3 separate regions of the Homo sapiens genome follow, and all the other regions are linked to region 3. Evidence: fine-mapped expression QTL. A gene starts in region 3. Each other region holds a variant in brackets. All regions are shown on one strand. Distances are from middle to middle.

Region 1 (4,243 bases), 46 kb before region 3:
CCTGCTTCTCTCTCTGTCCTACTGCCATGTGAAGATGTGCTTGCTTCCCCTTCACCCTTCTACCATGATTGTAAGTTTCCTGAGGCCTCCTCAGCCATGCCTCCTGTACAGCCTGTGGAACTGTAAGTCAAATAAACCTCTTGTCTTTATAAATCACTCAGTCTCAGGTAGTTATTTATATTAATAATGAGAACGGACTATTACAGGTCCCTTTGTGATGGGTTCCTCAACTATTTTTAGTTTGGTACCCCCAGGTGTTGTCCTTGATTTCCATTTGTTCGGCACCCTGGTGGAATTGAGCCATTGCTATTCATTCATGTTTACTATTTCTTGTGCTCCTATGTTATGTTGTACTGTCTAAAAGTGTTGTTTTTCATAATAAGCAAAATCACACAATATAACCTAGGCATAGTCCCTATAAACTTGTTTAGCTTGCTTCATACCATAGTGAGTTTGCAGTTCTCACCAGATTGGCATACATCCAGACATTTCAGTGGGTCACCAATAAAGCCGAATGAAGTCCATTTCAACTCATGTTTTGTTTTGTTTTGTTTTGTTTTGTTCTAAGAGTGTGGCTTTGTTCTAGAGAAAGCATTCTCTCTCATTTCCACTTATCAAGAAGCACAGATAGTCACATCTGCATTTAGTGGCAGACAATTATCAAATTTGGGGTCAAACACACAATGTACACAAGTATCACTAGTGACCAACCATTGCCAGCTCCTATGGGGTCAGCTAAGTCTAAGTTATCTTCTTTTCCAGGAAAACTTTTTTTTCTCTCATTACATTCCTAAATTTTGCACCTAACTCAGAACACATTGAAAGAGATTTACAACAAAATTGAGACAAGACCCAAAATAAAATTATTACCCTGCAGATCAAACAGTAAAATAGCCCATTTTAAAACTGATCTTGTATTGACAAGGATGCTTGTTAACATTGTAACAAAAGTGGAATAATAATGGTTTTATTTTACAAAAGAAAATTCAAGCCAAAAAAAACTTCCTCCATCCAGATTAATAATTGTACTTCAAGGGAAAAACATGCCTATCTTACCCTTAAATAATCAAGTTGAATTGACTATATATATAAAACTAGTCAACCTCATCAATTCCTGGTGGACACAGGTACTATTTGTTCCATGTGAAATCCTTCCTCTTCCTCAGAATAAACTTACCACACAGGTAGGAGGTATTTCAATAACCCACAGGTTTTTACTATCTCCCAGTTTTTAACACTTGGGCATTTGACTTAAAAACATTCTTTCAGCCTCTCTAATAACACAGCTGCAAATTTGACAGGGAGAGATTTACTTTTCAAATGAGATCATAATATTAAATGCACACCAGAAGTTCCAGGTATGTTTTGAAATTTCAGAGGATTTCTCTGTTCATGATCAAGTTGTAGATTATACTTTGATATACCTTTGTCCTCTCCATTACATTTGATGCATACCTCCATTAGCGATCTTGACATCATACCTGACACACTATGGGACACACACTAACATGGGAAAATAATTGGAACAGATCTTATTAATCTTTTACCTCACCAAACTGTTACCCAATCTTCACCAATATCCCTTGAAGCCAGAAGCAAGAGAAAGTCTCAGACCCATTGGCAAAGGCCTTATATCCAAAGGCCTTCTCTTACTCTGAACTAGCCTTTGTAACATTGTAACACTTCCATTCTACAAGGAAAAGAAAGAAGAAAAACACCACCACCTGCAAAACAAATGGCCAAGGATATGTATTTGTTCAAAACCTCAAGGCCATCAATAAAATTGTTAGCCCCCACTTCTCACTTCTCACTTCCCAGTAGTACCTAATCCAAATATCACCTTGTTGTCAATTCCTAAAATTACTTAAGTCCTTGTGGCAGATCTGTGCTCTTTTTCAGCATGCCCCTAGAGCAGACAACAAATATCTTCTGGTCCTACTTGGGGAGAATGAAAATATGCCTGCACTGTTATGCTCTAGAAGTTAACTAAAGCACCCTCATATTTTTTCCAGACCTTCAATCAAGACAGAAGGTCTAAATTTTCTTTTGATTCAGCTTTGACACAATATGTAGATGACCTATTTTGTTGAGAGAAAAAGGAAACCCATAAAAAAGGAATCCATTTACTTGCTCTCAACTTTAGTGGGAAAGAACATAAAGTTTCAAAAGCTAAATTACAATTTTACCAAAACACAGTCCATTATAGGCCATGATCTATCTAAGGAGAAAAAAAAAAGGCCTCTCTTCAGATAGAATAAACACTACTGAACTGTTCCTAAACCTCTTACAATACAATAATTGAGAGGATTTCTGGGTTTAACTGGATATTGCAGACAACATGTGCCAATTTTTTTTTTCTGAAATTGCGTCAATTTTATTAACTGACTAAGTCCTAAATAAGAGACTCTCTCTTTTAGGATTCAAAACATGAACAAGCCTTCTATTACCTAAGGAAGGTTTTTCAAAGCTTTCTTCCCTAGGCTTCGTTAACTGCAAACAGCCTTTTTTGTCTATTTGTGC[A/G]TAAGTGGTTTGAACAAGCCTTTTTGTCCTCTGTGGTTCATGGGAAACAAAAAACCCAAATGCTTACTATAGCCTCATTTGACTTGTTCACTTGGTCTTAGGCCAGTTGCTATTACATGTCAATATTTCTGCTGAACTAGTTCTAGGCTCCATGCTTGACCTAGGTCTCAGTTAAACTACTGAGTCCTACAACACCCTGAGTCCTTCTGCTTTCCTGCCTTCGTCATAATAAAGAGGACCTCAAGATCACCTTACCATGGTTAGGTAACCTTCACTATCTCACCCAGATGTATTAGAGGCTTACATTGAGCAACTTCATCTAATATCATACCTCAAAACTGAAACTGGAGGGGATTAAACAGGATACACTCTCACTAATTTAAGCTCTCCTTTAGAATACAATCTTATACCTGAGAGAAAATCAGCCCAGATGGGAGAACTTACTGCACTTGCTAGAGCTTTTCCATTCACCGAAGTTCAGAGAGGGATATATACTGATAACAAACACGCTTCTGGAGTAATACATGATTAGGAGATGCTTTGGAAACAAAGGGGTTTCTAGGTAGCTGACAACACCGACCAAAAAAAATAGACTATAGTTAAGGAACTTTTAGAGGCACTCCTACTTCTTAGACAGATGACTATGATAATGGTTTAGGTCCATGCAAGAAGGGGCAATATGGAAGTTAAAAGAAATTATCTAGTAGATCATTATGCCAAACGAGTCTTTACCAAGGTTATAATCCTATCTAAAGTACCAAAAGATAAATCTATAGGTGGATTCCAAATAAGCCACTATACAATAATAATTGTTTAGTTTGAGATTTTATAAAGAAAGAATTGAAGCTACCTGGTCTAACCCTTCGCTCAGGTAATCTCTGACACTCCCAAGATAGTCTGATGGTGGCACCAGATGAATTCAAATAGGTATTCCATAAATTTCTCTATGAAACTACTCATCATGATACAAACTGTTCACTATCTCCATCAACATTGGTGAAGAAACTTTACAAAGACTACTGAGTCTGGCATGTGTTCATGGCATGTACCACCTATCAACATAACACAGGGCCAGGAACCAAAGCTTCTAGGTACCTGTGAACACTTTAGATGAATTCTTACCACTTTTCAAGACTTCTGCTGAACCAATCAACCTTTCCAGAAGAATGTAGGTGCTAAAAGTCATGTAGTTTTTCAGTAAATGATGACACCTTACAGAATTCTTTTATAAAATTGTTCTTGTAAAGTACACGCCTTGGTCACTTGACATAAAAGTAGATATGCGCCAGGCTGAAAACAAAATCAAGCTGCTTTTTAGCAACTGTAATTACTGATAGTTCTTCAGCAAAAATGCTTCAACACATCTTAAAAATAGATTTATGGTAATTAAAGCATGTTCAAATTCCATGGAGAGTGGAACCATGAAGGAACGAAGGAAGGAAGGAGGGAAAAAAGAAAGGAAGGAAAGAGAGAAGGAAGGAACGAAGGAAGGAAGGAAGGAAGGAAGGGAGGGAGGAAGGAAGGAAACAGAGAAAGAAGGAGAAAGAGTGCAGTGCATTTTAAAGAAAATTCCTGCAAAGCCAGAGGGAGTTCTTAAGCTTATACAAAGGGGCCTTCCTGAGTGATCCTGTGATGCTCAGCCACTGGCCTGTGGGAAGTGTAGCCTCAGAATAAGTGCATTGTACATTTCAGATGCAGCTTGGCCTTTCCGCCAGTTATGTTC
Region 2 (4,243 bases), 78 kb before region 3:
ACCACAAAATTATGATTAGATTTATAGAAACATTAATAGGAATGATGGTTTACTTCTAACTTATGATCCATTATGGAATTTAATCATACAGCCCTATTCAACTTCTAATTTGATTAAACTAAGCATCAAATTCACTTTCAAGTTCTCTGAAAACAAAATGATCAATTTATAGGTCTAAGAGTTTTCTTTTTAAATTTTACCTTCCATATTATTTTTCCATCAGGATCACTTGTTCTTAAAAATTTGTACACACACCACTTAGATGTTAATTTCCTGTATAAATCAGGGAAGGCCTGAATCACTGTCATTGCCTGCCATCTCTCTGCAACTTTCCAAGGCTGATCATGAACTGCTTCACGACTGTTGTGCTGCCAAGCTTGCCATGTGTCATTTTCCAGTTGACTTCCAAAATATGGCACCATTTTCCACATTAACACTTATCTGTGAAGACATTATGCACTGTAATCAGGTTCCTCCAATGTAAAACACACACTTCCAAGTTCAATGTTAAATCATTAAATCAGCAATGTTAGGTGTGGGGCCTAGAGTTTGATCTGCATAAGAGGGAAAGAGGGAAATAACCAGGAAACTCAGACATTCTATAGTAAGTCATAGCTTGAGTCAATCATAAGAACTGATTCAAGTGTTATTTAGTACACATTTGTAAATAAGTCTACAGTCATCACCAATTTATCCCTCTTTAAAAATTATAAATATATGTATATATTATCAAGCTTGGGTGGGAGAGAGGGCAATATTTGTAAGAGAGATATAGAATATGAAATAATAAATCAGCTTGCCCCTGTAACATCTGTTCTTTTTCCTGGAAATTTCTCCCCATACTTCTTCCTGTGATTCCCTAGGATTTAATAACCTTCACTACAAGGTTTCCAGATATATGGCATCAAATATTTTGGACCATCCTCATATCTAAAACCATCAGAACTAATGAATATTAAGGTTGCATAGATTATACCTGAATCTATTATGATTACAAGCAATATGAGAAAATAAGAATACAGGGAAAGCAGTTATAATGCTTATGGTTATAAGCATTATAAGCTGAATTTTTATAGGCATTATGAGAAAATAAGAATATAGGGAAAGGAGTTATCACAGAGACTTTAGATAAGGAAATATAGAATGATCTCCAGCTCTAATGGTATAAAATCCAAGAAAACTTAAAACTCTAAACTTCTGAGGCCAAGAAGAAAGACTTAGGGATTCTTTAGGTACACCTAAAAAAAAAAGTTACAATCTGATTAAACCATCCAATACCAACTGTTCTCAGTAAGGGCATTTGTTAGTGATCTCACGGTCCAGGAGATAATGGTACAGAATTAACAACCAATGGATGATTTTCAGGAATTAGTAAAGTCAATTGGCAATGCCTGAGAATATGTAATAAAGTTCAGCCTTACTCTTGATTAAGAAAAAAGCAGTACAAGTATTTGTTTTTTCAAAATAGAAATGTAGTGCAAGACATAAGAAGAGAAAAAATAGCCTCCAGAGAAGAGAAATATAAAAACATGAAAAGGGGAGGGCTTGCTGGGAGATTGTAAAAATGAATAGAGCAATGAAACTAAGCAATAACATGGAAAGATGGTAAATGTTGATGTATCATATTTTGGTCAGCAATGGAAGTTGGCTTACTGGGGAAGAGACAAAGATGGCCCTAGGGAGTAATAGAAGCAAAGAAGCCGAGGAAGAAAATATGCTGAATATAGTCTCAGAGTTGGGAATCTAAGTTTAATTTTTAAAAAGTCAGGTTTCATAAGACAGAGAAGTGCAGAGCAAATAAAATAGAATTTTCTAACACACAGTCAAGTGGGCCTGGCACTCTGCTCCTCTTGCTTTTTATTAAATCCGACCTTAAGTTAGGAGTTTAATTCTAGATTTCACCATACAATACACATTTTTAAAGCAACACACGCCCCTCAGCATTTTTGACTGAGGAAATGTGTATAAAGGCATTA[T/C]GTAGCTGTTCTTATTCCTTTAATTTTGATGAAGTGTGAAGGTAAATTTATGACTGTATTATCCAATCAGTTTGGTTCAGCATTGTTAGGAAAGGAATATTGTAAATACTCTTAATAAAGAATAAACATTCATAATTTAAGATTGCCAATTGTCAAGAACTGAAACAGAGTAAGTATGCCTACCTCTGTTTTTACAGTTCCTACACTCCCATCATTTTCCTCAACCCCAAATCCCACCTCCACCCCTAAATATATTTTCCATCTCTTTTCTGCTGACAACTACATTTCCACTCCAGTTGTATTCCTCCTCTCAGTCAGGGCATTTGGTCCTTTCTTAATGCTCTGCATTGACAAAGATGGCAGCCACTGTGTAGGTGAATATGTGATAAATATTACTCTAATCTAGATAGTGGCACAAGGACCAGTATTCCTATATCATCTGCTACAATGTCACCAAGATTTTCTTCACAGAGTAATGTTTTTAAATGTGCATTGTCCATGTGACTTTGAGTCAATGTACACCTTTTTATTTAGTGTTCCTCCCATCCCTTTTTCCATATGCTCATTGTTAAAAGTGAGTCACTAGGTCCAGGTCACTTGAGGAAGGAGATGCACAAGGGCGTAAATACCAAGCATGGAGATCACAGCGGGCCACCTCAGAGGCTGTCTACCACATCATGTTTAACCAGATTCTCTGATTCATGTGGTTGGCACAAACTGGAATGACCCATGACCCTGGCCTATATATATAACCTCCTCCTTTTTGAGTATGGGTAGAACCTCTAAATATGATGAGATAGCAATCCAGTGATTATGTTACGTTATATGACTGAGTTGACTGTAAGAAAGACAATCTGTATGGACCTGTCTGAATCGTGAGCCCTTTACAAGCAGAGAATGGTCTTCATGTGGTGGCAGATTAGGAGGTCAGAGAAAGTAGAATGTGGAAGGATACTCAAACCAAGGAGATTATTCATTGTTGACTTTGAAGATAGACAGGGCTGCATGGAAAGGAACAGAGAACAGCCTGTAGGAGCTGAAGGGAACCCCAGTCTCACAACCAGCAAAAGAACAGAGACCCCAGTCTATAGCCACAGGAAACAAATTCTGCCAACTACAAGAATGAGCTCTGAAGGGGATCCTTCCCCAGAGCCTCCAGATGAGACCTTTGCTCAACTTGGATTTCAACCTTGTGATACCCAAACAGAGAACCACTCACGTTGGGCCAGACATCTGATTTAAAGAGCTGAGGGATGACAAACGGCTCCTGCTTTCAGCCACTCCATTTGGGTAATTTGTTACACAGCAACAAAAACTAAAGTCCCCAGGTCAATCACCTTAACGTCCAGAGGCAAATTCTCCTGGAGAGTCTTCAGTGTTTAGACAACCCTGGACAGAGATACGCTTCTGTGCAGTAGTTTCAACCTTTGGAATTTTTCTAATGGTATATTTAACAGTAGGTGTTACTGTTAAAGATATACACACACATATATAGACACATGGATGCATATATAAAAATATATATGCATATATAAAATATATATTAAAATATTATATATATAATATATATAATCCATCTCTTAGGATTGCTTTGTCATTTATTGCAGCCTGGCCCCATTCCCCCAAGTTGGTAGCTAATGATCTAAACCAGAAGTTCTGTTTTAGTCCATTCAGCCTGCTAAAACAAAATACAAGAAACTAGGTGGCTTCAAAACAACAAAAATTTCTTTCTTTTCTTTTCTTTTCTTTTCTTTTTTTTTTTTTTTTTCTGAGATGGAGTCTCGCTCTGTCGCCCAGGCTGAAGTGCAGTGGTGCGATCTCGGCTCACTGCAAGCTGCGCCTCCCGGGTTCACGCCATTCTCCTACCTCAGCCTCCCCAGTAGCTGGGACTGCAGGCGCCCACCACCAAGCCCAGAACCTCGTCTCTACTAAAAATACAAAAAATTAGCCGAGCGTGGCGGCGGGCACCTGTAGTCCCAGCTACTCAGGAGGTTGAGGCAGGAGAATGGCTTGAACCCAGGAGGCGGAGCTTGCAGTGAGCCGAGTTCACGCCACTGCACTCCAGCCTGGGCAACAGAGCAAGACTCCATCTCAAAAAAAAAAAAAAAAAAATTTCTTGTGGTTCTGGAGTCTGGGAAGTCCAAGATCAAGGTGCCAGCAAATTTGATGTCTGGTGAGGGACTGCTTTCTGGTTCATAGATGGCGCCTTCTCACCCCGTCTTCAGATGGTAGAAAGGGTGAAAGAGCTCCCTCAGGCCTCCTTTAAA
Region 3 (4,243 bases):
CAAATGAAATCAAAGCAGTCCAGGACATTGGACTTTACCACTCTGCTTCCTAAATAACCATATCACACCAGCCCCAGCCCCAACAGTATCTGTAGGGACTGCCTCCAGCTCATTTCCCAGACACACAATTAGTTGATAGAATTTGTCATTGCTCATCTCGATAGTAACTAAAAAACGTTAGAAAATTATTTTCTTTACTTAGATCTATATCAGGCATAAAAGACACATATATTACCTGTGGATAGCATCTACACATCTACCTCCATTTTAATCTAAAGAGTAACTGATGTCCCCTCATCTCCCTTTCCACCTCCCCACTGACTTCTTGAGTTAGAAGATGCAAAGAGAAAACCAAACGATAGCAGACTGACAGAAGCTCAGGTGGGAACTAAGAACATCTCTTGAAATATAATGTGGCCTAATGGATATGGTGCTGCTAATTTGTCTTGTACCACGTACTCAGTGTAATTGAACTGCCTTTCTGAGAACTAAGATAAAAATTACAATTAAACGTGTGATGAAAAAAATGGTCTTGCATGTCTTCCCTCACAGGACTCAGGATATTTTAATATCAAACTGGCTTTAAGACACTTGGAGTTAGCTTGGAGAACTGTTTTTTGCAGGTGAGACAAAGCCTGTGTGTGCATGTCCACACCTGGGGTAGGAGGAATAAAAGCGAACATTTGTACTGTTGTCAATAGTCTGCTTAATCTGCTCCTCCTAGCAATTATTTGTTACCTATTTAACCTCTGTACCGCTTTTCTCCTTCACTCTTACTTCCATTTATATTTCAACTTACTCCCAAGTATAATAAAGAATAGACTTGAATATTCAAATCATTTAAGTTTGTTGGATAATCTCTTTCAACACAAAATAGAAGCACAATGTTACTGAGAATCGTAAGCACCAAATCCCTTTTATTACAATTTCCTGCATTCTGTCATGCTTATTTGTGTTTCAGAAACAAGCTCTGCGGGGGTGGGGGGGGTGGGGGGGGTGGAGGAGATCACAACCTCAGACAGTCTGCGGTGTTCAGGGTCATGCCCGTGGCATAATTAGGAGGAACATTCGACCTGGCCCCTGGGCAGGCTGTGCCCTGCTTGGCTTGGCTTGTGAATGCAGCAGACGTGAGCCCCGTCCTGACTGCTGCTGAATCAGAGGGACAGGGGCGAAGGCCCAGAGGCCTTCCTTGGCACATGTTTTGGGTTTCGTTTTTCAACAAGACTTTGAATACGGTGATTCCACTTGCTGTATTTCACAGCAGGCTACGCATGGGGAAGTCCCGATGGGGTCAAGGAGCAGTCAAGCCAGGAGGTGATATGGAAAACTGATTTGAACGTGAAGAAGGCAATGCGAGATGCACTGGAAGACTGTGGGGAAGGATCAGGGGAGTGGTTCACTTTGAAATAAGGAAGAAAAGGAGGAAGAGAAGGTGGCAGAGATGCAGCAGAAGATACCAAGAGAGGAGGACAAGGTGGCACAAGAAGGGGAGGAGAGAGAACTTAATCTGCTCAAGTTCCAGACTGGGCAAGGGTCTTTCTTGCAGGAAGTTTACAGACATTCCAGTTTCAAATCTGAAGTGATTTTGCCTAAGGAGAAACCCTCACTACCCGCCAAAAACATGCCATCTGAACAGGGAAGGTGATGGCAAGATTGGGCAGGTGCTGTGGAGAAGACCTCTGCTGGACTTCGTGCCTCCTTAGCTCTGGAATCACAGGATCTGCAAGAGCATCTACCTGCGCTCACCAGCACGTTCCGCCAGCCTCCCTCCCCCAACCCACCTGGCCACTCTAGGACCCCTCGCACCCTGGTCCTTTGTTGCAGGCTGACATCTGCCCCACCAGAGTCAACTGTCAGCGCCTTGCACGTGAATTAGGGAAGCGGAGTAACCTGGGGTTCCATCCCTTCCCGGGTCCCTTCCAGCTTTCGCCTAGCTCCGGAGCATCCACCCATCTCAGGTCCAGGGCGTGCGTTCCCAAGGATGCTCGGCCCTCTCCCAACCCGCGGCCTCCTCCCCTCTCTCCCGCGGCTGCCGCTGCTGCCGCGAAAACCAGGAGAAGTGGAACGCGCGCGGCGAAGCGCCGCTCTCGCGGCGGCACTGGGCATGCTCCGCACCCGGGGCCGGTTTCGGCGGCGGGGCGGACGCTCCCTCACTAGCCGGGCGCCCGGGCCGGCCGCCGAGGTTTAGGTGGAGGCTGAGGCTGCCGCGCGCCGCGGGAGGAGCCTCGCCCTCGGCGGCTGAGGCGGCGGCGGCACAGGTGGCGCGGGCCGCGCGCGGGGCGCAGCTCGGGAGCGCTCGGCGCCGGGCGCCGCGGCGGCCCCAGGCTCGCGCCCGCGGCGACAGCCGGCTGAGCGGAGCTGCGGGCGCGGCGGCTGCTCTCTCAGCCCGGCCGGCTGGCGGCGGCGCCCGGAGCCCCGAGGAGCCCGCAGGAGCCCGTGGAGCCCGCGGAGCCGGGCAGGGGGCGCTGCGCTCGCCGAGCTCGGAGGGGCCGCCGGGCCGGGCGCTGCGCACTCGCGTCGGGAGCCGCCTCTCGCCCGCGGCGCTCGCCCCTGCCGCCCGCCAGCATCCCTTGTCCCGCGGCCGCGCTCAGACAACAAAAGCGGAAGATGCTGCAGTTGGGCAAGGTCAGGACCTTGCCCTGAAGCCGGGCGGCGCCGCGCACGCCTCTTCCCGGACTGAGGAGCTGTCGCCGGCGGAGGGTGCATGTTTGCGAGGAAGCCGCCGGGCGCCGCGCCTTTGGGTGAGTTGCGGGGCTGGGCGGCCGGGGCCGGGCGCAGCCTCCTCCCGGCGCCGTCCTCCTCCTCTTGCCGCTGGTGGGGGTGGTCCTGGGCTCCCGGCCGGCAGGCGGCGGCGGCGGCTGCTGCGGGGTTTCTGCCTGCCTCGGGGAGGACCGCGATCGCGCCAGGTCCCCCTCGGAAGCCGCTGTGCCTGGAAGGGGGTCCGGGGTTAGTGCCTTTCTTGGAGCGGTTACCAAGTGGCTGCCCTGCGTGCTCCCCCTCCCTGCCACCCATCTCCCCGGGAGGAAGCGTATTTAGGGCAACACCGACAATGCTGCTCCCCGCCACCCTGAGAACATACTCGGTGCATTCATGACGTCCCTAATATACGGGAGGAGACGGGGTGGGGGTGGGGAGGACTTCCCTCCAGTCTTTTGCCCTTATGTTCAATGTCATTACGATGTTTGGCTAGAACAAAATGGAAAGACTTAGTCATATGCGTCCATGGCCGTGTCTTCAGGCTCCCGCGGCTTGCCAGACCCTGAGCCCCCTTGGTCTATATTTAGCGGCTTCCCAGCAAGCCTTTGCAGCCGGCTTCACAGGTTTCGGGGGCTTCTGCGTGCTGACAATAGACAGCCAGGCTCCAGAAAGCGCCGCCTGAAAGCCAGGTTTGGAAGGCTGTGCGTGTGTATGGGAGATGAGCGATGCAAAATTGGGGTGATCCGTAATTAATGGCTGAAAGCGAAGCTGCTTTTTTCTTTTTTTCCCGACCCTCATCTTATTCTGGTGTGTAGTGTGTTTTCTTCGATTGCCACTCGGCAGGTTGAGCCTCTGCTTTCAGAATTAAGTCACTAGAAAGGTGATGCAGCCTCCCTGGTGTTTGTGGTAGGAAAACAGACTTGGGAATTTTTGGGGTGTGTGTGTGTGTGTCACAAATAACAGTTACTTCCAAAATGCCCAAAGTTGTATTTTGCTGTAACCGTGGGGGTATGAAGGGTGTGGGAGATGAGAGATAGAGGGGCAGGTTGTGTTTCCAAGGTGTTTTTTTTTCTTTTCTTTTCTTGTGTGCCTCATTTGAGCTGATCTGATTCGCCTTAGCTCTGGCAGGTGTTATTAAGATGTATTTTTACTGTGCTCAAGCAAATATGTTGATTTAGAAAACAGAGAATGTTGTCAGCATAGTATTAGGCCTGACAGGTGTAAATTTTCACTTTTAAGAACTATGTGACCAATATTTAAGAGTCTTGGGATTTTCTGCAGTGACTTCCATGAAAACAAGGAGGTGCTGAAACTCCCTAGGAGTTATCTCATTGTGCATACTTCATCAGGGGCTGAAGCTACCGAGGGCAGTCCAGCTGGTCTCTGCTGCTGGTCATTCACCTACATAATGACAAGGCTTCGGGGCTGCACCACTTCTAAAATCCCATGGAGAAGTGTTTGCTGTGACTCATATCAAGTTATGGCGGTGAACCTGTCATTATTTTGGGGATTTCTGCTACGAGACGTGTGATATATAGGGGCGAGT

Direction of the effects. Alleles are on the strand shown, and positions count from the first base shown. SD is a standard deviation of normalised expression in the study named.
With allele A in place of G in region 1, the expression in esophagus muscle of the gene that starts at base 2,112 in region 3 is lower (small effect, 0.24 SD a copy in GTEx).
In carriers of allele T in region 2, the expression in tibial artery of the gene that starts at base 2,112 in region 3 tends to be lower than with C alone (large effect, 0.75 SD a copy in GTEx).

What was found. PIP is the estimated chance that this variant, and not a neighbour inherited with it, causes the effect. A credible set is the group of variants that fine-mapping cannot tell apart.
Region 1: its variant is the best candidate, but not a certain one, in a credible set for the expression of CTNND2 in esophagus muscle (GTEx, PIP 0.59).
Region 2: its variant is the best candidate, but not a certain one, in a credible set for the expression of CTNND2 in tibial artery (GTEx, PIP 0.81).

What each region holds. Positions count from the first base shown.
Region 1 is chr5:11,947,953-11,952,195 of GRCh38, reverse strand. No RefSeq gene overlaps it. Among named protein-coding and RNA genes, the nearest start is that of CTNND2, 46 kb to the right of the region's middle. The variant A/G (reference allele first, on the strand shown) is at 2,521.
Region 2 is chr5:11,980,543-11,984,785 of GRCh38, reverse strand. No RefSeq gene overlaps it. Among named protein-coding and RNA genes, the nearest start is that of CTNND2, 78 kb to the right of the region's middle. The variant T/C (reference allele first, on the strand shown) is at 1,977.
Region 3 is chr5:11,902,315-11,906,557 of GRCh38, reverse strand. CTNND2 (catenin delta 2) reads left to right here and starts at 2,112. Exons shown (of 22, transcript NM_001332.4): 1 at 2,112-2,741. The coding sequence starts at 2,705.